Regions from separate parts of the Homo sapiens genome. Here regions 2 and 3 are each linked to region 1. The links come from fine-mapping of genetic effects on gene expression. A gene starts in region 1. Each other region holds a variant in brackets. All regions are shown on one strand. Distances are from middle to middle.

The links. PIP is the estimated chance that this variant, and not a neighbour inherited with it, causes the effect. A credible set is the group of variants that fine-mapping cannot tell apart.
Region 2: its variant is the best candidate, but not a certain one, in a credible set for the expression of NQO1 in lymphoblastoid cells (GEUVADIS, PIP 0.64).
Region 3: its variant is the best candidate, but not a certain one, in a credible set for the expression of NQO1 in whole blood (TOPMed, PIP 0.52).

The regions. Positions count from the first base shown.
Region 1 is chr16:69,722,033-69,729,843 of GRCh38, forward strand. NQO1 (NAD(P)H quinone dehydrogenase 1) reads right to left here and starts at 4,528. Exons shown (of 6, transcript NM_000903.3): 1 at 4,401-4,528. The coding sequence starts at 4,407. It overlaps NQO1-DT (NQO1 divergent transcript), which reads left to right and starts at 4,695. Exons shown (of 2, transcript NR_186363.1): 1 at 4,695-5,143. RefSeq lists enhancers at 4,011-5,003, 4,090-5,289, 4,536-4,795, 5,004-5,997.
Region 2 is chr16:69,774,424-69,782,234 of GRCh38, forward strand. All of the region lies in intron 1 of WWP2 (WW domain containing E3 ubiquitin protein ligase 2), which reads left to right. Among named protein-coding and RNA genes, the nearest start is that of WWP2, 16 kb to the left of the region's middle. The variant A/AATATATATATAT (reference allele first, on the strand shown) is at 3,649.
Region 3 is chr16:69,698,585-69,706,395 of GRCh38, forward strand. It overlaps NFAT5 (nuclear factor of activated T cells 5), which reads left to right. Exons shown (of 15, transcript NM_138713.4): 15 at 1-6,070. Among named protein-coding and RNA genes, the nearest start is that of SNORD13H, 6.2 kb to the right of the region's middle. The variant G/A (reference allele first, on the strand shown) is at 4,364.

The sequences.
Region 1 (7,811 bases):
ATAGAGCGAATTGCCAGAGAAAGGACGCTTACCCCCACAGTTGCTCCTGATAATGTGCGCTGCTACTTCATACCCTACCATGAACAGTGGGTGGAGCTGGGAGAGAAGGCATCTGCAACTTTTTTGGCAGGGTGGGGGTGGGGGCGGGGGAGATGGAGTCTTGCTCTGTCACCCAGGCTGGAGTGCAGTGGCGCCATCTCGGCTTACAGCAACTTCTGCCTCCCGGGTTCAAGCGATTCTCCTTCCTCAGCCTCCGAATAGCTGGGATTACAGGCGCGTGCCACCACGCCCGGCTAATTTTTTGTATTTTTTGTTTTAGTAGAGACACCATGTTAGCCAGGATGGTCTCGATGTCCTAACCTCATGACCCACCTGCCTTGGCCTCCCAAAGTGCTGGGATTACAGGCGTGAGCCACCGCGCCCAGCCGGCATCTGCAACTTTTTTGCACCATCTGAATAACTAGAAATAACTAAAATAACTAGAAAGGCACATTTAAACCTTAAGCTCTCTTCCTGCTTTTATTATTGACCACATCTAGCAAGGCAAGTGCCTCTTGGGCTAAATTCAGCGAAGTGTAACTTTCAGGGCCCAATATGCCAAACCAGGGGATTTCCAAACTTGGTCCTAGGGTTTTGGACTCTTAAAACTAAGACTCAGTGGAATAGGTGTCTGGTGATGATTTCAATGCGCTGGAAGTGATTGACTTGCTTGGGATAGCTTGGAAAAAGGAAAAGGAAGCTCTGAGGCTGCCTCAACAAATTCCTACCTCTTTAACCCATGGATTTAACATGATTGGGAGGGAAGTGAGCATATTCAGCTCTAACAGGCATTTTCTTTGTAACTTACCTTGCCATTAGTCTTATCAATGTTTACTGATCGCCGCTCTGACAGTTTTTGTTTGTTTGTTTTTTTGAGACAGAGTTTCGCTCTGTCGCCCAGGCTGGAGTGCAGTGGCGCGATCTCGGCTCACTGCAAGCTCCGCCTCCCAGGTTCACGCCATTCTCCTGCCTCAGCCTCCAGAGTAGCTGGGATTACAGGCGCTCGCCGCCACGCCCGGCTAATTGTATTTTTAGTAGAGACGGGGTTTCACCGTGTTAGCCAGGATGGTCTCGATTTCCTGACCTCGTGATCCGCCTGTCTCGGCCTCCCAAACTGCTGGGATTACAGGCGTGAGCCACAGCGCCCAGCCAACAGTTTTTATTTTATTGACTTCTCATCAATGTTAACAAGCATTTTCTAAGTAGTAAGACAGTCAAGGCACTTCTCAGAAAATGAGCAAATCAGGATATCCATCTCTTGCTCTTTCAAGGAGCTCAGACTCTAATAGCTATAAGCAGGCCTGTGACTTTACAATTTTTCATGTAAGGCAACACACAAGCAGGAATAATATATTTGCAACAAATATAACCATCAAAGTGCAGTACCTGGAATAGGTAGATCCCCAAAACAACTCAAAAGAAAAATGATCAAAAGAAGGTTGTGGGTGGGTCGCGGTGGCTCACACCTGTAATCTCAGCACTTTGGGAGGCTGAGGCGGGCAGATCACCTCATGTCAGGAGTTAGAGACCAGCCTGGTTAACATGGTGAAACCCCGTCTCTACTAAAAATACAAAAAAAAATTAACCAGGTGTAGTGGCAGGTGCCTGTAATCCCAGCTAATCGGGAGGCTGAGGCAGGAGAATTGCTTGAATCCAGGAGGCGGAGGTTGCAATGAGCCGAGATCGCACCATTGCACTCCAGCCTGCGCAACAGAGCAAGCCTCTGTCTCAAACAAACAAACAAAAAGATGCTTGTGAATAGGCAATTTAAAAGTTTTCTGGGCCCTGGAGGGTTCATTTTCCCTTCCTGCCACTTAACTAGCTGAGCAACATGACCTGGGAGGAGTTAGACTATTAGAGTTTACCCTGAGAGAGGCCACAAGATGCACACACGGATAACCTCTTCAGGGTACAATGGCATTAGTGTGTTAGGAGAGGTAAGGGACAAAGTTCAACAGAAGGCTGGGTGTGGTGGCTCATGCCTGTAATCGTAGCACTTTGGGAGACCGAGGCGGGTGGATTACTTGAGGTCAGGAGCTAGAGACCAGCCTGGCCAACATGGTGAAACCCCGTCTCTACTAAAAATACACAATTAGCTGGGCGTGGTGGTGGGCGCCTGTAATCCCAGCTACTTGGGAGGCTGCAGCACAAGAATCGTTTGAACCTGGGAAGTGGAGATTGCAATGAGCCAAGATCACGCCACTGCACTACAGCCTGGGCAACAGAGTGAGTGAGACTCCATCTCAAAAAGTTCAACAGAGGAAAACTTCAGGACCTCAGGGCTGGCCCATTCGGAAAGGCCCTCAGAGGAGCTTGCCATTTGAGCTGAATCTTGGTCTTGAACTCCTGGCCTCAAGCAGTCCTCCCGCCTCAGCCTCCCAAAAGTGCTGGGATTACAGGAATGAGCCACCACTCCCAGCCAAAATTTTTTTTTTTTTTAATTAGCTGGGTTTCAAGTTCTTCTGCTCTGACCAAAAAAAATTAGCTGGGTGTGGTGGCACACACCTGTAGTCCCAGCTACTCGGGGGCAAAGATGGGACAATCACTTGAGCCCAGGAGGTCAAGGCTGAAGTGAGCCCTGATCATGCCACTGCACTCCAGCCTGGGCAACAAAGCAAGACCCTGTCTCAAAAAGAAAAAAAGAAGTATGATAAAGATAAGCCTTTGTATCAGTTTCATGCATTCTCCTTCTGCCTTCTCTTCTCACTTGAGTGCTCCAGGGAACATGAGTGCAAATCAGATGCATCTATTAGTTGCAAACAAAAAACCTGGATGCTTTAGTTAACCTCAAGATTTGGTTAGCTGGGTACAGCTAAAACTAATTATACAAGATCCAAGTCTTCCCTTTTCACCTCATTACCACCGCCCTTTTTTGTGTTTAAGCTACACGTAAATACAGAACATTCTGTAAGATTGAAAAGTCAGGAAATAGTTCCTGCCCTAGTATTGGAGGAGAGGGTGCCAGTGCCTCGACGCTGAAGAATGAAATACAAGGGAAACAGCAACCACCGTGTATGCGGCAAGCCTCTCAGCTGTCAGAATCTATTCCCTGCTGTCTCTGCCAGTAACTCATGCTGGGCTACCAATCCCCAGCTTAGTCCCTTTCTCAGAGATCCTGATAATTTCAGTTTGTCAACTGCAAGGGCAGTCTGTTCCTCCACTCACTTTGACCAAGATGGGCTTCTTTGTGTACAGGCGCATTTTTAGAGGCAGGACCAGGTCCACAGGGAAGGAAATTACAAAACACAGGATTCTGCCCCAGATGAGGCAACAGCTTTCTAAATCTTAGTACTGTCCAATCTCAGAGTGAGATTATTTGGGAAACAGCTCTCAATCCCTGCAGTTGTCTCAGCTGGTTATTTATGCCTTGGGTGGAGCTGGGGTGACCTCTGAGTTCCCCTAGGGTCGATGGCCGAGTGGGAAGGCTCTATCACTGAAGTGGACCCAATACTAGAAACGGATCCAGTACGATCTGATCAGGTTTGCCTAATCCAAGGGCCTCAATGGAAAATGCCTCCCAAGGCCAGGCACGGTGGCTCACGTCAGTAATCTCAGCACTTGGGGAGGCTGAGGTGGGTGGATCACCTGAGGTCAGGAGTTCAAGACCGCGCTGGCCAACTTGGCGAAACCCGTCTGTACTAAAAATATAAAAATTAGCCGCGCATGATGGCGCACTCCTGTAATCCCAGCTACTCGGGAGGCTGAGATGGGAGAATCGCTTGAACCCGGGAGGCGGAAGTTTCGCTGAGCTGAGATAGCGCCATTGCACTACAGCCTGGGCGACAAGAGCAAAACTCCGTCTCAAACAAAACAAAACAAAACAAAACAAAACAAAACCTGTGCCTGGCAGCCTGGAGCCGGTTCTGGTCTCCGTCAAACCAAAGGCATCAGTTTCCTCCACTCCTGTCCACCAATCGCCAGATATTCTCATTTTCTTCAGAAGCTCGGAATCCACATTTTTAAGTGAAATCACCCATTTTAATGTTAGCAACTTATTTCAAAGTGTTTTAGATACTATAGACCAAAAGAGGTATGGGCTGTGACCGTAAGCCTGATTTGGCCTCTGACGGCCAGTTTCTGACCACAGTTTTGGAGGGAATTTCTGCTTCCAAGGTCAAGTTTCTCCTAAATGCCCACTAGAGTTCGTGGGGTGGAGTGAGGAAGGATCCGCGACACCGGATACAAACAGAAGCTCTCCTTCTCCCGGAGTCCGATCAAGGCTCATCCCAGGTCCCTAATCTCTTCCCTTTGTGGGTTTTGAGTCAAGGAACAAAATTCAGGGCCAAGCCCCTACAACCTCCTCCACAGGCACCAGTGCTCGAGAGACGACCGCCAAGCACCCCGCCCTTTGCAGCACTCACCGACCATGGCTCTGGTGCAGTCCGGGGCGCTGATTGGCTGGGCTCGTGGTTGCCGGGGCGACCCTGGCCGGAACTAGGCTCTCGGTGAGCTGGGCGGCTCCGGCTGCAACCTTGTGGGAGTCGCGTGTGTAGTGCACGGTGCATTCTCTCTTATATATCCTGTCCGGCCCGTTTGAGGTGGACAGCCTACAAGGGCGGGACCCAACGCCTGAATCCTGGGGTGCTGGGCGGAGGATGCTGAGGCTGCAGCTCCAGGAAGGGAGGGAGCCTGGGGGATGAAGGAGGGGCCTCTCCACTCTCACCCGCCGGAGCAACTGGTGGAAGTCAAGAAAAGTCTCTCGGGGCTGGGGGAGGGGATTGTAGGGGTGTGTGTGACAGAGGCCTCAAAAATCTGGCTGGGGGTGCTAAGGCAAGCCCATCTGCGCACTGTGCCCTGAGGTGCAAGAGGATGCAGGGTGGAAGTCGTCCCAAGAGAGTCCAGGGATCAAGTGGGCATGCCCTTTTAGCCTTGGCACGAAATGGAGCAGAAAAAGAGCCGGATGCGGATTACTGTGGTGCCCTAGGCTCAGATTCTGCTGAGTCACTGTGACTGCGGATTTGGAAGGCTGAGAGTCCTGGGGAGACATGCTCCGTGGAGACGAATTTGTTTCTTCCTTTGCAAGATTCAGATTCTGCACTTGGGGGCCCATACAACACACTTCCCTGGGTGCATGCCACTGCACCACCCCTGCTCCTCAAGGCAGGTAATGGGGGAACTAATTGGTTTTGTTTCCCATGAGCTAAGGCAAGGCTGGTGTGGAGATAGCAGTTATAGGGAAGCATATTAAAGAATAGCCAAAACGGGACCAGGCGCGGTGGCTCACGCCTGTAATCCCAGCAATATGGGAGGCCGAGGTGGGTGGATCACCTGAGGTCAGGAGTTCGAGACCAGCCTGGCCAACCTGGTGAAGCCCCGTCTGTACTGAAAAATTAGCTGGGCGTGATGGCGGGCGCCTGTAAGTCCCAGCTACTCGGGAGGCTGAGGCAGGAGAATCGCTTGAACCCGGAAGGCGGAGGTTGCAGTGGGTCGAGATCGTGCCACTGCACTCCCGCCTGGGTGACGAAGTGAGACTCCGTCTCAAAAAAAACTCTATAAAGTAAAAGTTACTGTAAAGAAGGAGATATACTCTCAGTAGGTGAAGGAAAAAGAACTAGAGCTTTAAAGTGGTAATTAACCATCAGAAGAATCACAGATGGGGGAGGTGAGGATGACACAGGGCCCTTCCGTTGTCCCTCCAGTGCAAAAGTTAAGGAGGCACCAGAAAACTGGTTTCCAACTCCCGACCTCAGGTGATCCTACCGCCTCGGCCTCCCGAAGTGCTGGGATTACAGGCATGAGCCACCGCGCCCGGCCCCATCGTGACATTTTTGCATTCATTTTGATGCAACAAGAGAGGACTATATTATTTACACGTATTTACAAATTACTTTGGGAGGCTGAGGCAGGAGGATCACTTGAGCCCAAGAGTTTGAGAAAAGCCTGAGCAACAAAGTGAGACCCCATCTGACAAAATAGTATAAAAGGACGTTTTAAAAAAGGGCTAGGTAGGCAGCCCTGTCCAATAGAACTTTCCCTATCTGTGCTGCCCAAGTAAGGTAGCCACAAGCTTCAAGTAGCTATTGAGCACTGGAAATGTGGCCAGCAGCCAGGCGTGGTGGCAGGCGCCTGTGTCCCAGCTACTCAGGATCTGAGGCAAAAAGATCGCTTGAGCCCAGGAATTCAAGGCCGCAGTGGTGGACTCAATAAAAGAAAAAAAATGGAAATTAAAAAAAAAAAAGTGGCCAGTGGACTGAGGAAGTGAAGTTTTAATTGTAATTAAATTAATTTTTTAAAAATTTATTTTTTGAGGCGGGGTTTCACTGTGTCGCCCAGGCTGGAGTGCAGTGGCAGGATCTTGGCTCACTGCAATCTCCATCTCCTGGGTTTAAGCAATTCTTGTGCCTCAGCTTCCTGAGTAGCTAGGACTACGGGCATGCACCACCACAGTCAGCCACTTTTTGTATTATTCGTAGAGATGAGTTTCACCATGTTAGCCAGGCTGGTCTCAAACTCCTGACCTCAGGTGATCTGCCCACCTCGGCCTCCCAAAGTGCTAGGATTACAGGCATGTGCCACTGCGCCTGGCTTTAATTAAATTTAGATAGCCACATGTCACTAGTGTTTGGAAAGACCTGAGCTGGTTCAGATCGAGGCCGCAGTGTGCTGGCTATTCTATCTCTCACTCTTCTAGTGAGATTGTTTTCTCAATCACCAGTCTCCCTGACCCATCCAGAGGTGGGGCTCAAAGCCACAAAGCTCAAGTGTCGTGTTCGGTCGTTGGTTTCCAGCATGGCCAGTTCCCATCCTCAGTCATCTTGTTAACATGAACTATATAGGGGCCCATCCCAAGTCATCTCATTAGCATAAACCATCAGGAGTGGTCTGAGAAGCCCACAATGAATAAGATGGACACTCCTATCATTTGGGATTTAGGGGCTCAGGGGCATGATGATAGTTCACTGCAGCCTCGACCTTCTGGAGTCAAGCAATCCTCCTGCCCCAGCCTCCTGAGTAGCTGAGATGACAGGTGCATGCCACCGTGCCTGGCTAATTTTTTTTTATTTTTTTGGTAGAGATAGGGTCTCACTATGTTGCCCAAGCTGGTCTCAAACTCCTGGGCTCATGTGATCCTCCCGCTTTGATCTCCCAAAGTGCTGGAGTTACAGGTATGTGCCACCACTCCTGGCCAAATTTGTTACTACACAGTGGTAAAGACAGACATTTGAGGTGGCAGTGAACCAAGATCATGCCACTGCACTCCAGCCTGGGCAACAGAGGGAGATCCTGTCTCAAAAGAAAAAAAGAAACTTACTGGCCGGGCACAGTGGCTCAGGCCTGTAATCCCAGCACTTTGGGAGACTGAAGCGGGTGGATCACTTGAGCTCAGGAATTGGAGACCAGCCTGGCCAATGTGGTGAAACCCCGTCTCCACTAAAAATACAAAAACATGAGCTGGGTGTGGTGGTGGGCGCCTCCAGTCCCAGCTACTCGGGAGGCTGAGGCACGAGAATCGCTTGAATTCAGGAGGCAGAGGTTGCAGTGAGCTGAGATTGTGCCACTGCACTCCAGCCTGGGCAACAAGAGCGAGACTCCATCTCAAGAAAAAAAGAAAAAGAAAAAGCTGCTGTGGAGCATGGGCGAGCACTGCTGCCTGGACAAAGACCGAGGGTCCTCGGGAGGGCAGTACTGATGTACAGGTTTCCAGCAGGTCGGCGTGTGTGTTCTCTCCTGCAGGTCTGCAGCCAGGCGTGCCAGGAGAGGGGGAGTCTGAGGGATTGATGTAGGTTGGGAAAGCATGATGAGAGGAGACAGAGTGGGGGCTGTGAAGAAGA
Region 2 (7,811 bases), 52 kb after region 1:
TTTTTGTGGTTTTTGTTGAGACGAGGTTTTGCCCTATTGTTCAGGCTGGTCTCGAACTCCTGGATTCAAGTGATCCACCTGACTTGGCCTCCTAAGGTGCTGGGATTACATGCATGAGCCACCACTGCTGGCCATCATACCCTTTTATCTATCTGAATGTTTTGCAGATACTCTCAGTTTCTTCCTTCAGCTTCTTCAGATCTTTGCTCAAATGTCACCTTCTCAGTGAGACCTTCCTGTTCATGCCTTTTTAATTTCTATTTTGGCCAGGTGCTGTGGCTTACGTTTATAATCCCATCACTTTGGGAGGCCAAGGCAGGAGGATGGCTTGAGCCTAGGAGTTCAAGACCAGTCTGGACAACTTGGTAAAATCCTATCTCTACTAAAAATACCAAAATTAGCCAGGCATGGTGGCATGTACCTGTAACCCTAGCTACTCAGGAGGCTGAGGCATGAGAATCACTTGAATCTGGGAGGTGGAGGTGCAGTGAGCTGAGATCACGCCACAGCACTCCAGCCTGGGTGACAGAGCAAGACTGTCTCAAAAAAAAAAAAAAAAGAAAAGAAAAGAAAAAGTGAAAAGCATGCAAATTTATATCATATAAATTTACGTGACTAAGACCTGGAGAAACAGATAATGTGTATTTATGTTTAGGTTTGATGAAGAGTGGACAATCGTGGAGAAATACGATTGGACAAAAGGGGTATGATTGACTGGTAATACACTGGGGGAAATTTAACAAGTCCTATTTGTTCAGATTCTTCTCTGTGTCCTTTTGTTTTCAGAGAAGGATATTTCTTTCCTTGGGGTATAAGGAGGGCATCTCTCAAAGGAGGGTCATATGACCCGTTTCAGGGGAAGGTCAGAAAATCTTTCATAGGCTTTATGACCTGCTTTATGGGAGAAGGGTGAGAGGAAGCTGAGAGTGACTTCCTGCTTTTCCTGTTTTCTTAAATGCCAAGGTGTCATGTTTTGGGGTAAGGTATCTTAAACCCCATCAGCCATGTCCTGTCTACTGATGAGCCCATCAAGGCATTCTTCACTTCTATTACAGTGTTTATGATTTCTAGCATTTTCTGTTGACTCTTATAGTTGCTATATCTCTCCTTACATTGCCCATCTATTCTCATGTGTTGTCTGCTGTTTCCATTAGAGCCCTGAACCTAGTAATCATAGTTATTTTGCATTACCTGTTTGATTATTCTAAAATCTGTCCTATCTGAGTCAGGTTCTGATGCTTGCTTTATTTCTTTTTCACACTGTTTCTTCTTGCCTTTTAGTGTGTTTTGTAATTTTTCATTGAGAGCTAGACATTGACCTTCTTCCTGCTGATCAGTTCCTCTTCCTTACCCCTCCCTAGTTCTTGTTTAAAAAAGAAAGCTGGACATGATGTATTAGGTAATAGGAAATGAGATAAATAGTCCATTAGTATTGTTAGTATGGTGTTTCATGTTAATCTGGCTAAGAGTTGGTCTGTGTTTAATGATTGCTGTAACTGTTGGTATCTGAGGCTTCAAATTCCTCTAGTGTCCTTGTTTCTGTCTCCCCTGTTATCTTTGGTTTTCCCTAAAAACTCCTTCTTAAATAGAGTGTATGCCTTTCAGCCCTAATTCCCTGTTGTTGTACTGGAGCCCTGTTGGTGTGACAGCAAAGTATGGGGGAGGGGAAGCATTCTATAGCCTCATGGTCAAATCCTAGTCTTTTAGTGGGCCTGTGTCCCAGGCTATGACTGTCACTCATATTTAACTGTTTTTCTCCCCTTAGATGAAACAGAAAGGCTAAAGAGGGCTGGAGTCAGGGGACTTCTCTTCCACCAGGTAGGATAAGGCTCTGGTAAAGTCTTCTTCCCTGGAGAGTAGGCCATTGCTCTGGGCCTATTTCACTATGGTTACTTCCCACAACTAGAGCTAGGAGGGAATCTTTCTTGACTCTTTACCAGGATAATCTTGTAAAGAAGGATTTTTTCTTCTGTTTTATTCAGCAGTATACCACTAGCACCAAAACCAGTGCAGAGTACATAATAGATGCTCAATAAATATTTGTCAAATGAATGAATGCCTCTTATCTAAGCTCTAGAGATTGTTACCTAGATGTGGGAAGTTTCTTAACTTATAATGATAATAGGCCGGGCGCAGTGGCTTACGCCTGTAATCCCAGCACTTTGGGAGGCCAAGGTGGGCGGATCACCTGAGGTCAGGTGTTCGAGACCAGCCTTAACATGGAGAAACCCCGTCTCTACTAAAAATACAAAACATTAGCTGGGCGTGGTGGTGCATGCCTGTAATCCCAGCTACTCTGGAGGCTGAGGCAGGAGAATTGCTTGAACCTGGGAGGCGGAGGTTGTGGTGAGCCGAGATTGTGCCATTGCACTCCAGCCTGGGCAACAAGAGCGAAATTCCATCTCGAAAAAAAAAAAATAAAAAAAATTATAATAAACTGATGACATTTCTCTGAATGAAATTAGTCCCTAGTGTAGTATTTGCTTATTAGGTTCTGTAGTGTTTGTTTAATCTAAAACCCTACCTTAGATGGGATTGTTGTAGACCAGTAGTCTCAAGCTTTTTTGACTGCAACCTTTAGTAAGACATACATTTTATATCTTAAAACAGTATATGTGTGTGTGTGTATATATATGTATGTATATTTATTTTAAAACAGTATATGGATATATATATACACATATGTGTATATACAATACACATATGGATATATATACACATATGTGTATATACAATACACATATGGATATACACATATGTGTATATACAATATACATATGGAGATATCATATATGCACCTATTAATATATATACATGTATATTTATTTGGTAAAACTTTTTGTGAAATAATACTTTCCTTTGTGTGTGATATACTTTTATATTTTCTTTTTTTTTGAAACGGAGTCTCATTCTGTCACCCAGGCTGGAGTGCAGTGGTGCGGTCTTGGCTTATTGCAACCTCTGCCTCCTGGGTTCAAGCAATTCTCCTGCCTCAGCCTCCTTATTAACTGGGATTACAGGCACCTGCCACCACGACCAGATAATTTTTGTGTTTTTAGTAGAGATGGGGTTTCACCCTGTTGGCGAGGCTGGTCTCGAACTCCTGACCTCAAGCAATTCACCCACCTCAGCCTCCCAAAGTGTTGGGATTACAGGCATGAGCCACCGTGCTCGGCCTATATTTTCTTTTAAAAAAATCTTTTTATTTATTATAGTTTGGTATACAACTTTTATAGTTTCTACCCTATTAGTTTGTATTTTATTTTTAAAATGCTTGTCAAGATTTATGTAGAGGATAAGTTCAGAGGAAATATGTTGTTTGTATTTATATTATATATAAATATGTTATTTATATTTTTGAGACCAAGTGTGGTGGCTCATGCTTGTAATCCCATCACTTTGGGAGGCTGAGGTGGGAGGATTGCCTGAGCTCAAGAGTTCCAGATCAGCCTGAACAACATAGGGACCCCCTTCATCTGTACAAAAAATTTAAAAAATTAGGTGAGTCTGGTGGCTGGTGCCTGTAGTCCCAGCCTTTTAGAAGGCTGAGGTGAGAGGATTGCTTGAGCCCAGGAGGTTGAGGCTGCAGTGAGCCATGATTGTGCCACTGCACTCCAGCTTGGGGTGACAGAGTGAAACCCTGTCTCA[A/AATATATATATAT]ATATATATATATATATATACACACACACACACACATGTATATACATACACATAGATACACACACACACACATATATACATACACACTCATACTATAAATAAATATATATATATATATATATTTTTTTTTTTTTGAGAAATTTCAATAGATCTACCAGACTTAGTAAAGGGGGACATTTTGACTTTCCCATCCCCCTCCCAATAAGTCCATTAGTTTCTTCAATAATGAAATACTTTGTTCATCTGGTAACCTTTAGTTATATTTTAAACATTGACCCCCTTCTCCCTCTTCCAGCAAAGCTTATGCTCACTCAGAGTTTTGGAGTGATTAGGATGCAATTACTTTCCATGGCTATTAGCAGGGGAGAAATTACTTGAGTACGTGTACGGAGTCATCTGTTCGTGTTGCTGAGACAGAGTGTGAAGTCTGGGCCTCAGGTTTCCTAAGCTTCTTGTAGTGGATAGTGGGGATTTGGACCTAATACGCATTAGGAACCTTGTCTAAGATGGGAGGCAAAAGCTGAGAGGTCGAAAGTACTTTGATGGGGATGGGATCTGTTCCTTTCTATAGTTACGGTTATTTCTCTTGAGACAGAGTCTCGCTCTGTTGCCCAGGCTGGAGTGCAGTGGTGCGATCTCGGCTCACTGCAACGTCCACCTCCCGGGTTCAAGCAATTCTCCTGCCTCAGCCTCCCGAGTAGCTGGGATTATAGTTGCGCCACCACTCCTCGCTAATTTTTGTATTTTTCATAGAGACGGGGGTCTCACCATGTTGGCCAGGCTGGTCTTGAACTCCTGCCCTCAAGTGATCCGCATGCCTGAGCCTCCCAAAGTGCTGGGATTACAGGTGTGAGCTGTCACACCTGGCCGGTTATTTATTTATTTATTTATTTTTTGAGATGGAGTCTCGCTCTGTTGCCCAGGCTGGAGTGCAATGGTGCAATCTTGGCTCACTGCAACCTCCACCTCCTAGGTTCAAGAAATTCTCCTGCCTCAGCCTCCCAAGCAGCTGGGATTACAGGTGCCCGCCACCACACCCGGCTAATTTGTTATATTTTTAGTAGAGATGGGGTTTCACCATGTTGGCCAGGCTGGTCTCAAACTTCTGACCTCAGGTGATCCACCTGCCTCGGCCTCCCGAAGTGCTGGGATTACAGGCGTGAGCCACTGTGCGTGGCCCCGGCCGGTTATTTTTCTTTATGCATCAATTGGAAAGGTTTTACAATTCCAAATGCCTACATTATATAATGTCAGGGTGGTATCTTGCTCATTAGATCTGGAACTCCAGACAAAGCTCTATAGAATAACATGGATTACTGTTATATAAGCAGTGGACTGCAATTTTAAAAGACACTGGAGAAAGAAAACATGGTGATGTTTTATCTACCCTGTTTCTCCTGCCTTCCCAGTTGCCTTTGTTCCTTCTGAGCCTTCTTTAGAATTTATCTGATTGTTTTAGTTTTGCGGCCCTGAAGTGTAGATCAAAAAGTTTGGTCTTTCTTCTGTTGAACAGGCCATGTATGGGCTTCAAGTTCCATTCTCTAAGAGTCAGGACCAAAGGCTCAAAACTGCTACAGTTCAGGAGAACAAGATAGTTTAAAAACTACCATTAGTTGAGTTGCCTTAGGAAAGAAAGAGTCCCAATAGAAGTAAAGATTTCTAAAATATTCTTTCATTTTTAAAGTCTGTAAATAATGGATTTCCAGCGTTTAGTGCTTTAACCCCTGTTAACTAAAAGCCCCAAGGCTCAATTTATAATTATTTATAATCTTTCCTGCATTATTCAAGATACGATCTTTTGCTTCCCCTTAAAATTATTGTTCAATTATGAAAGAGATCAAACATATAAAATGGTTAGAGATGAAGATAACAAACAGTCATAAAAACCACCATCTGGATTTAATGAATATGAACATTTTGCCATATTTGCCCCAGAACTTTTTTCTTTGAAAGATAAAATGTTGTAGATACAGTTGAGGTTCCTTTGGTCTCTTCCCCACTCCAATTCCCCTGCTCCCTCCTCCCCTACCCTAGAGGGAACTTCTGTTCTGAACTTGGTGTGGTTCCTTCCCGTCGTACTTTTATACTTTTAAACGTTTGTGTGTCCACAACAACAACGTATACAGTTGTTTTGTGTAAGTTCAAGTGTACACCAAAGACATCGTACTAAGGCTGCCACTTGCCTTTTTTTTTTTTTTCCCCTCTTGGCATTATCATTTGGGATTTGTACATGTGGATTAAATTCATATATTTCAGGTACTATATAGCATTCCATTTTAGAAATATATCAATTTATCCATTCCCCCATTGATGGGTATTTAAGTTGTTTATAATTTTTTACTATTACAAATACTGCTATGATGAACATCCTTGAACATGGCCTCTTCTGTGTGTGTTGGAGAATTTCTCCCTCTGCAAATGCCTGGGAGTAGAATCCTGGTGGGTCCAAAATTACGCGTCTTTAACTCTGCCGGAGGTTGTCAGCTGCCATCTAATGTGCGCTGCCTCCACAGGCATGTGAGACTTCTCTCCAACACTAATTGTCAGGCTTCTCATCTCTTTCTAATCTGATGAGTAGCAAAGAGAGTTGATCTTTTTACTGCTTTGCCAAGACAAATTTAGTCTAAGTGAGTCAAAACATCATCTTTTTGGCCTGGTGAAATGGCTCATGCCTGTAATCCCAGCACTTTGGAAGGTGGGGCTGGGAGGATTGCCTGAGGCCAGGAGTTCAAGACTGGCCTGGGCAAGATGGTGAGATCCTATCTCTACAAAAAATAAATACATAAATTAATAAAAAAGGAAAAAAATCAGCTGGATGTGGTGGCAAATGCCTGTAGTCCCAGCTACTCAGGAATCTGAGGCGGAAGGATCACTGGAACCCAGGAGGTCAAGGTTGTAGTGAGCTATGATCATGTCACTGCACTCCATCCTGGGTGACAGGGCTAGACCCTGTCTCAAAAAAACAGGTTGGTCCTGTGGTAGTGGGTTATCAGAACTTATTAACATTAGTGTCACTAAAGTTTGTATACAACCCCTGAATGCTAAATTTGGCTTTAAAAAAGGAAAAAAAAAGAACTGAGATGGGAGTCTGTCTGCACGTTCAAGGGATAGTTGAACAGTGAGGAGGCCTGTGTGGCAGTAATCACAGCATGATGAGGGTGGGGGGATACTGGGGAGCAGGAAGTGGGCCATGAGGTCAGAGAGGGGTGTGGAAATGGGGGAAGGTATTGCATAGGACGTCAAAGTTCATTTGCAGGTCTTTGGCTTTTACTCTTTTTTTGTTTTTGTTTTTCAAACAGGGTCTCACTGTGTCACCCAGGCTGGAGTGCGGTGGCACAATCTTGGCTCACTGCAGCCTTGACCTCCTGGGCTCAAGGGATCCTCCCAACTCTGTGGTCCTGATTAGCTGGGTCCACAGGCATGTGCCATCACACTCAGCTAATTTTTGTATTTTTTTTGGAGAGATGGAGTTTGACCATGTTGCCCAGGCTGGTCTTGAACTCCTGAGCACAAGGTGATCCGCCCGCCTCAGCCTCCCGAAGTGCTGGGATTATAGGCGCCCGCTGGCTTTTACTCTGAGTTAGACGGTGTCTTAGTTCATTTTGTGTTTCTATAACTGGATAATAGAAACGGGATAATTTATAAAGAGACTAGGTAATTTATAAAGAAAAGAGATTTATTCTTTGTATTTGAGTCTGGGAAGTCTAAGGTGGAGGGCCCACATCCTGGCAAGGGCCTTTGTACTCCACATCCCAAGTGGAAGGAAAGGCAGGAGAGCTAGAGAGAAACGTGAGGGGCTGAACTTGCTTTTATAACAAACCTGCTCTTGAGATAGTGGCCCCAGCCCTGAAGTAACATCAATCTGCCCTCATGATCCAATCACCTCTTCAAGGCCCCACCTCTCAATACTGTTAAGATTAAATTTTCGGAGCCGGGCGAGGTGGCTCATGCCTGTAATCCCAGCACTTTGGGAGGCTGAGACGGGCGGATCACCTGAGGTCAGGAGTTCGAGACCAGCTTGGCCAACATGGTGAAACCCTGTCTTTACTAAAAATACAGAAATTAGCTGGGCGTGTTAGCGGGTGCCTGTAATCCCAGCTACCAGGGAGGCTGAGGCAGGAGAATCTCTTGAACCCGGGAGGCAGAGGTTGCAGTGAGCCAAG
Region 3 (7,811 bases), 23 kb before region 1:
TAGTTCCTTGATGTCAGTAGTGGGCTAAAGGCAGCTTACTGTGTGTTTGCTGGAGCTTTCACTCAGCCAAGTGTTAGAGTCAGGAAACCCATTGAGGCAATGGCGTCAAATGGTGTTTCACAAGAATGAGCCATTCAGTCTTTGCTCACTATATATTTAATATTTTATTATTGTTGTTATTGTTATTATTAATTGGCTTTCTGTATTCTATGCCTTTTATTTATAAAGACACTAAGAAAACCCATGTTTGTAATTTTAATAACATTTTTCCCATCTTGTAATATCCAGAGCTACTTTATAAATTCTCTGAACCAAAAGTATTTTCCTCAGTGTATCTCTTCTCCCCCAGCCCCTATTGGGAAAAATTACCCAGTATAGTTCAGGTTATGAGGAGGATCAGCCACACAATCCAGTGCTTCAGTTTGAAAATGTAAAATTCTAACCCTAAAGTAGGGTTGGTTGAAATTTCAGACAAAGCAAACCCAGCAGGTATAAAAAGTAGTATAAATACAAATCTGTAAGTTATTTTTGAATTTTCTGAACTTTTTTCTAAGAGATTACATAGGAGACTAAAGAAATCTATCTGTTCAAGTTCTAATTAGGATGATTGTTAATACTGCACTGTGGATGAAGTGGCGACTGGCTTGTGTGCTGACTTCTGTGGTTTAGCAAGAGGTTTATTGTTATCAAATGCTAATTGGCAATGCCAAGTCACTGGGACCAATTTTCTGTTTTATAATATCTAAGTTTAGAACAGAATATATACCTGAACTGTAGTGGTTTGATCGGATGGAGACAGAAAACCCGATTTTTATTCTCATAAATTTTGTGGTTATTTATACAAGGGCTGTGCTATGCTACCATATTCTTGTTCAATAATAATAGGTTTGTTGTTTTTTTTACATTGTTAAATGTTCCTTACCCCTAAAGGTCAATGTTAAGTACAACATTCTGAAAATACAATTTGGCTACGAAGAGTATTCATCTTCTTTGAAGCTCAGTGGTTGATATTTGTGCTAATAATGCAATTTCCTGATTACTGTTACAAGTTATAGCTACATATGGGAGAGACTCAGTGAGCCAGCAAAGGCCATAGAAACAACAATTTATTAAATGTATTTATGGCAGAAGGACCTAAATAAACTGTGAGCCACCTTTTCTTCTTTATATTGTTACATTTAAGTGTTCTTGCTTTCAGCAACTCACATTAATGCTTGGAGCTTATCTCTTTCTCTCTCTCTCTCTCTCTCTCTGTGTGTGTGTGTGTATGTGTGTGTGTGTGTGTGTGTGTTTCCTTATTGTCATTCCATTATATATCCACACCAACATGGGTGACGATAATTCAAAGTCATATTTTGCCTCTAAGCTTGATCATGTTACCTTTATGATTAAAGTATCATGTTATTTAGCCAATGCAAATCTGTTTTAAAACAAATAGTTTAAAAAAAGAACAAGTTTTTAAGGGCTTTATTATAGAAGAAGTATTAATGAAGGACTTTCCTTCCTCCCTCCCTTTCCTCCCCTCCCTGCCTCCCTTCTTCCCTTCCATCTCCCCCTCCTCCCTGCCTTCTTTGTTTCTCCTTCCCTTATTCCTCCCTCCCTCCTTTCTCCCTTCCTTCCTTTCTTCCATTCATCCTTCCTTGCCTTTTATTTTTATTTTTTGTAATATCACATGTGCTGTAGTTTGGAATTTTATTCTAGTGCATTTCTTGCTCATCAGAACCTCAGCTAATCTACCTAGGAAAAATAGTATCAAAGGAAATGAGAAAGTTGTATCTGAGTCCCTCCAGAACTAAGATAATTCTTTTTGACCATTTAAGCCTTTATAAATGCGTTTTGACCATTTAAGCCTTTATAAATGCTTGTTTTAGGAAAGTGAATCTGTTAGATGCATCAACAAATAATGACCAGGACAAAACGATTTAATAATTAAAGTCTCAAATCACCATGGTTATACATTTTCACCAGAAATAGTAATCTTACAATTTTTCATTTTTCTGATGAAGATTTCTGTTCCAATATCTGTTTCCTAATAGATTTTTTAAATTAATTAGCTTTCCTCTGCTTTATGACCACAGGTTTTATCCCTAACCGAGACAGCTGTCTTATATCTGCATGCCTTAGACTGTGTGGAGGGACTCCATGAAGAAAGACCATAGGTTAGAAAAATAACTCATAGTATATACCCTAGTAAGTGGGTTAGTAGAATCTCATAACATGTATTAAAAAGAGGTTTTCTTCTCTGCTTGTTTGTGTCACTAGAGCAAAATTGTAGAGATAATGCTCATAATGCAGTAAATATCAGAATAATATCTACAATATCATTTGTGGATGGTCCCAGGTCCCAGTGCTCTAGTTACTTTACTTCTTTTTTTTTTTTTGAGATGGAGTCTTGCTCTGTCTCTCAGGCTAGAGCAGTGTGCGATCTCAGCTCACTGCAGCCTCCACCTCCCAGGTTCAAGCGATTCTCCTGCCTCAGCCTCCCAAGTAGCCAGGATTACAGGCACCCTCCACTAGGCCCGGCTAATTTTTTTTGTATTTTTTTAGTAGAGATGGGGTTTTGCCATGTTGGCCAGGCTGGTTTCGAACTCCTAACCTCCAGTGATCCACCTGCCTCGGCGTCCCAAAGTGCTAGGATTACAGGCATGAGCCACCACATCCGGCCTAATTACTTCTTTAATCCCCATTTATTTTTATGCCATTCTAGCCTCATTTATTAATAAAATTATGTTTTTACTTTCTCTTTCAGGAAATTTTTTAAATTAATATTTTATATCTAGATCTAATGCTATGGAAAAGTGCCTTTTTATCATTTATAATTTCATTTTTCACTATTTCCAAAAACACATAAACAAATAGTTTCAGTAGGTCCCAGCTTTTACTTTTTCCATTTAAACCTTCTTTTCTCCATTTCTTCCCTTTGGCTTAAGAATAAAAGAAAAGGTACATTGCTAGAATTGTTTCTTTGGGAGAGGGTAAAAGATTACAGAATTAGACTGTTCAGCCTTTATATAAACTAAATTTGTCTTCATCTCAACCAGCTAATGGTAGGTCTTATCTGAATACTCATGAGAATTTTAGCATCTGTGAAACTCCATGCACCAGATGTGTGTAAATTTCAGGAAGAAAGTGTTGAAAGCATTTTCTCTGATGTTAATTAGATGGAAATAAATCACTAAAACATAGTTTAGGTAAAGCCTGATTATGCCACTTTTTTTTAACTAGACAGGGCAAAGTTGTTTATGTTAGTGTACTTCTTGTCTATCCTCAGTTAATTTACCTAGACAAAAAGTGTCAAAGGAAATGAGAAAAAGGTTATATCTGACTCCCTCCAGACCTAAGATAATTCCTTTTGATCAGATACAGTCAGATGGAGTGCCTTGGTTTTTGTTAATTTTGCCTCTATTCCAGCTCCTTACCACAGCGGTGGTGCTTAAAGAAAGGATCATCAGCAACAGGTCAGGATAGTTCTACCTTTGGGATAGGGCTGCTTTCCCCGTGCTAGTATTTCTGTGACTGTTAGTGGCACTGAGGACTGCAAACTTTTATGCAATATTCTTAATACCCTATTGATATTATGCACTTTAATCATTCCAAAGAAGCCAAGAATGCTGTATAGTGATGATTCCTTCCTAATGAATTCATCTTAACTATTTAGAATGTTATGTCCCTTTTCTTTTGGATAGCCAACTTGGTATAAATGTTATATGGATTTTTCTAAAATGACTATATAGGACTTAAGACTTTGAAATGTAATTTACTTATAAGGGGAAATAATTATGCTTTAGCACATCATTTTAGAAACGTCACATTTTAGAAACATTCAGCTTGCTAACCTACATGTTTGGGAATTCATTAAAACCAGTTGTCTATATATTTTGTGCCATGTATATAAGAACATTACAATATATCTTTTTCTACATATGTAGTATGTGCAACCAGTGGTTCTCAGAGTATGGTTCTCAGCCCACCAGCTAGTATCAGTATCACCTGGGAACTAGTTAGAAATGTAAATTCTTTGGCCCCATCCCAGACATACTGAGTCAGAAACTCTGGAATAGGGCCCCCGCAATCTGTTTTCACAAGCCCTCCAGGTGATTCTGATGCACACTTTAAAGTTTAGGAACCACTGGGCTAAGACTCTGTTGAGATATAGAGTTTTTCTTCCACTCAGACTGATATAGTTATACATTGTTCTTCATGTAAATTCAGCTTAACCTGGTTATCTATAATCTTTTATTGGCAAAAGTTAATTCTCAGTACTGCCTATAGAGATACAGTGTATTTTATGTACATACACAATTAGTCTAATTCTTGATAATTCAGTTAATTTAGTTTGGCATTTTCCTACCACTTACTAAAA[G/A]GTTTACATTAAATGACTGATTTAAATATATAGGTGCAATGTTCTATGTTTATTTTAATTGTTATGACATTTAAGTAGCTAATATAATTGACCGGTGCTAAAGTCTCCTGTTTATCCATAAAATGGGTACATTATGGGCAGTGTAATACAAGCTTTCTTTTCATTGCCTAGTACTTTACCAGCAGACCACAGTTTTGCCCTGGCTAGACCAACCCTCAGAACAAAATCATCATTCCTTGTATTTATATTTGTATCTGAGATAGTAAACAAGATGGCTGGCCAGGTCAACATGGCACCTTAACTTATTTTTTTAATAGGTAAAACTTCTTCAAAAGTAGCTTGCTTTGTATAAGAACTAAGCTATCAGTATAGATATAGCTATCCTTGGAGCTTATGTTTCAGACAAGAATTATTTACTAAAATAAATAATAAACAAGATAATGCATTATACAATTTGGGCATTTCTCGTTTCTCAAGTGTATGCATCATGGTAAATATAAACTAACCACAAGATAGGTAGATTGATTCATTTCATTTTAATCTCCTTGTGTAATTCAGTACCTCCATAATTGTTCTAATCTTCTTCCCACTGTTTACAAATTACCAGTTAATTAACTCGTGAAAGAAAAATTCACATATCAGAATAAAAATAAATGTATACTCACTTTATAAAAATCACCACTGCTGTCTTTCCTTAATACTAGCAGTGGAAATGTAAGTGGCTTACTCTACAAATTTTGGTGCTGGCAAATACATAGGCAAACTGTTGGGAGCTGCTCTAGTTACATTCCTCCCTTCTTATTCCCTTTTTCTCTTCCTCACTTTATTGCATAACATATTCCTGTACCCAAAGCATTCTACCACAGTTCTATTTGACTCCCACTTGTAATAACTCCTTTAAAAAATTCCATGTTTAACCATATGACCCTGCTTGCTTACTCATATTCTCCCTCCCTCTCCCCTTCCTTTCTCTCTCTTCCAGAAGTCATTTGCCTGGTTTGAAATATTTTGTAGGGATTGCTTATTATATTATTTTAGCTGATGAACCTCAGGACAACGTCTACACACACACACATACATACACGCACACAAAATCTCAGCTGTTGAAGAGTGGGCTTGGAATCAGACTTCTGTGTCCAGTAAAAAACTCCTGCACTGAAGTCATTGTGACTTGAGTAGTTACAGACTGATTCCAGTGAACTTGATCTAATTTCTTTTGATCTAATGAATGTGTCTGCTTACCTTGTTTCCTTTTAATTGATAAGCTCCAAGTAGTTGCTAATTTTTTGACAACTTTAAATGAGTTTCATTCACTTCTTTTACTTAATGTTTTAAGTATAGTACCAATAATTTCATTAACCTGTTCTCAAGTGGTTTAGCTACCATTCTGCCATTTTTAATTTTTATTTAATTTTATTTGCTTGAGCACACTGATCAACCACTGAACTGCCTTCTTCCATTGTCCTGCAATGATATAAGGGTTACATTTTTGTGTATATGGCTTTCATAGTTGGGATTTCAGAGCACTGATACCAGATATTTTCAGTTTGTTCTCTGGGGGAATTTCATTTGCATCTATGTTTTTAGCTATCTGTGATAACTTGTTAAATATTAAAAAGATATTTTGCTTCTATTGGAACATTTGTATACTCGCAACTATATTTCTGTAAACAGCTGCAGTCAAAAATAAAACACTGAAAGTTTTCATTTTGCAGTGGATAGCTGTCTTTTTTTTCCTCAAACTTTGTGAATGGAATTGTGTGCATGAACGACAGTTTTGAGCAGCATGAGTATATGGCTGAAATTATAAAATCATTAGGGAGGAGGTGTGAAATATAGACATATTTCTGAGTAGTTATTTTGTGCCTACCATTTTGCCAGGTAGAGTATAAGTGACTCAGTGTGACAGAATTTTTGTTTTACGTATAATTTAAATGTTTCATGTTTAGTAAAGCAATACATATACACGGAGGTGCTTTTGATGAAAACCAAGTCTCCCCATCCCTTAGTCCCATGCCCAGAGACAATCTCTGTTTATTCTTTTGGTGTTATTTCTACATCTCTAAATTAGCGCATATCAGAGTGTGGTACACAACTACCCGTGGTACGTGGATAAACACTATTTTTAAACTTACATGTATAAGTGTTTTGATGCGTAATAGAAAAAAATATAGGCTGGGCTCAGCGGCTCACGCCTGTAATCCCAGCACTTTGGGAGGCTGAGGCAGGCAGATCACCTGAGGTCAGGAGTTCGAGACCAGCCTGGCCAACATAGTGAAACCCCATCTCTACTAAAAATACAAAAAATAGCTGGGCATAGTGGCGGGCACCTGTAATCCCAGCTACTTGGCAGACAGAGGCAGGAGAATCGTTTGAACCCGGGAGACGGAGGTTGCAGTGAGCAGAGATCGCACCATTGCACTCCAGCCTGGGCAACGGGGCGAGACTCTGTCTAAAAAATAAAAAAATAATAATGTGTCTACCTACCAGAGTGAGGGAAAAAGTGAGTCAAATTAAAGAAAAATATTAAATCACTGGGCTCAGTGGCTCATGCCTCTGTAATCCCAGCTACTCGGGAGGCTAAGACAGGAGGATCACTTGAGGCCAGGAGTTGGAGACCAGCCTGAGCAACATAGCAAGACCCTGTCTCTATTTTTTTTTTTTTGATGTTTAAATGAAAGGAAAAAGGAAGAAAAATATTTTTTAAAAAAATGCTAATACAGATACATGGGTGTCATGAATATGGTATCTAATTGAATCGTAAAAGACATTGCTTTAGACAGCATACTTATACCTTCCTATCAAATATAGACAGTATCTGTTGATTCTGTAAAGGAGTAACAATTCTTAATACATCCAAATCTATATATATATATCTAAATGAGTTGTTAGGAGATTTTATATATATATATACATATATATAAAATTTATTATTATTTTTTAAACAATCCTTCTGTTCTAAATACAGTATGCCTTGCCAAGCATGGTGGCTCATGCCTGTAATCCCAACACTTTGGGAGGTCGAGGCAGGAGGACCACTTGAGCCAGCCCGGGAGTTCAAGACCAGCCTGGGCAACAAAGTGAGACTTCGTATCTACAAAACATAAAATAATTAGCCAGGCATGTTGGCATGCGCCCATAGTCCCAGCTATTCAGGCGGCTAAGGTGAGAGGATCACTTAAGTCCAGGAGTTTGAGGCTGCAGTGAGCTATCATCATGCCACTGCACTCCAGCCTGGATAACAGATACTGACACTGTCTAAAAAAAAAAAAAAAGGAAAAAAAGAATAAAAGTTGTCTTTTGGTGTTTATTGACTTCAATGGCACTGAAAATGAGCAATAACCAAATGAAATGTAATAAGTATATCAAATTATATATTTTGGTTCAAAAAAAGCTTATGTGGGCAAAATACTGATCTGAAGATGGGACTACAATAGGATGGGGCTGC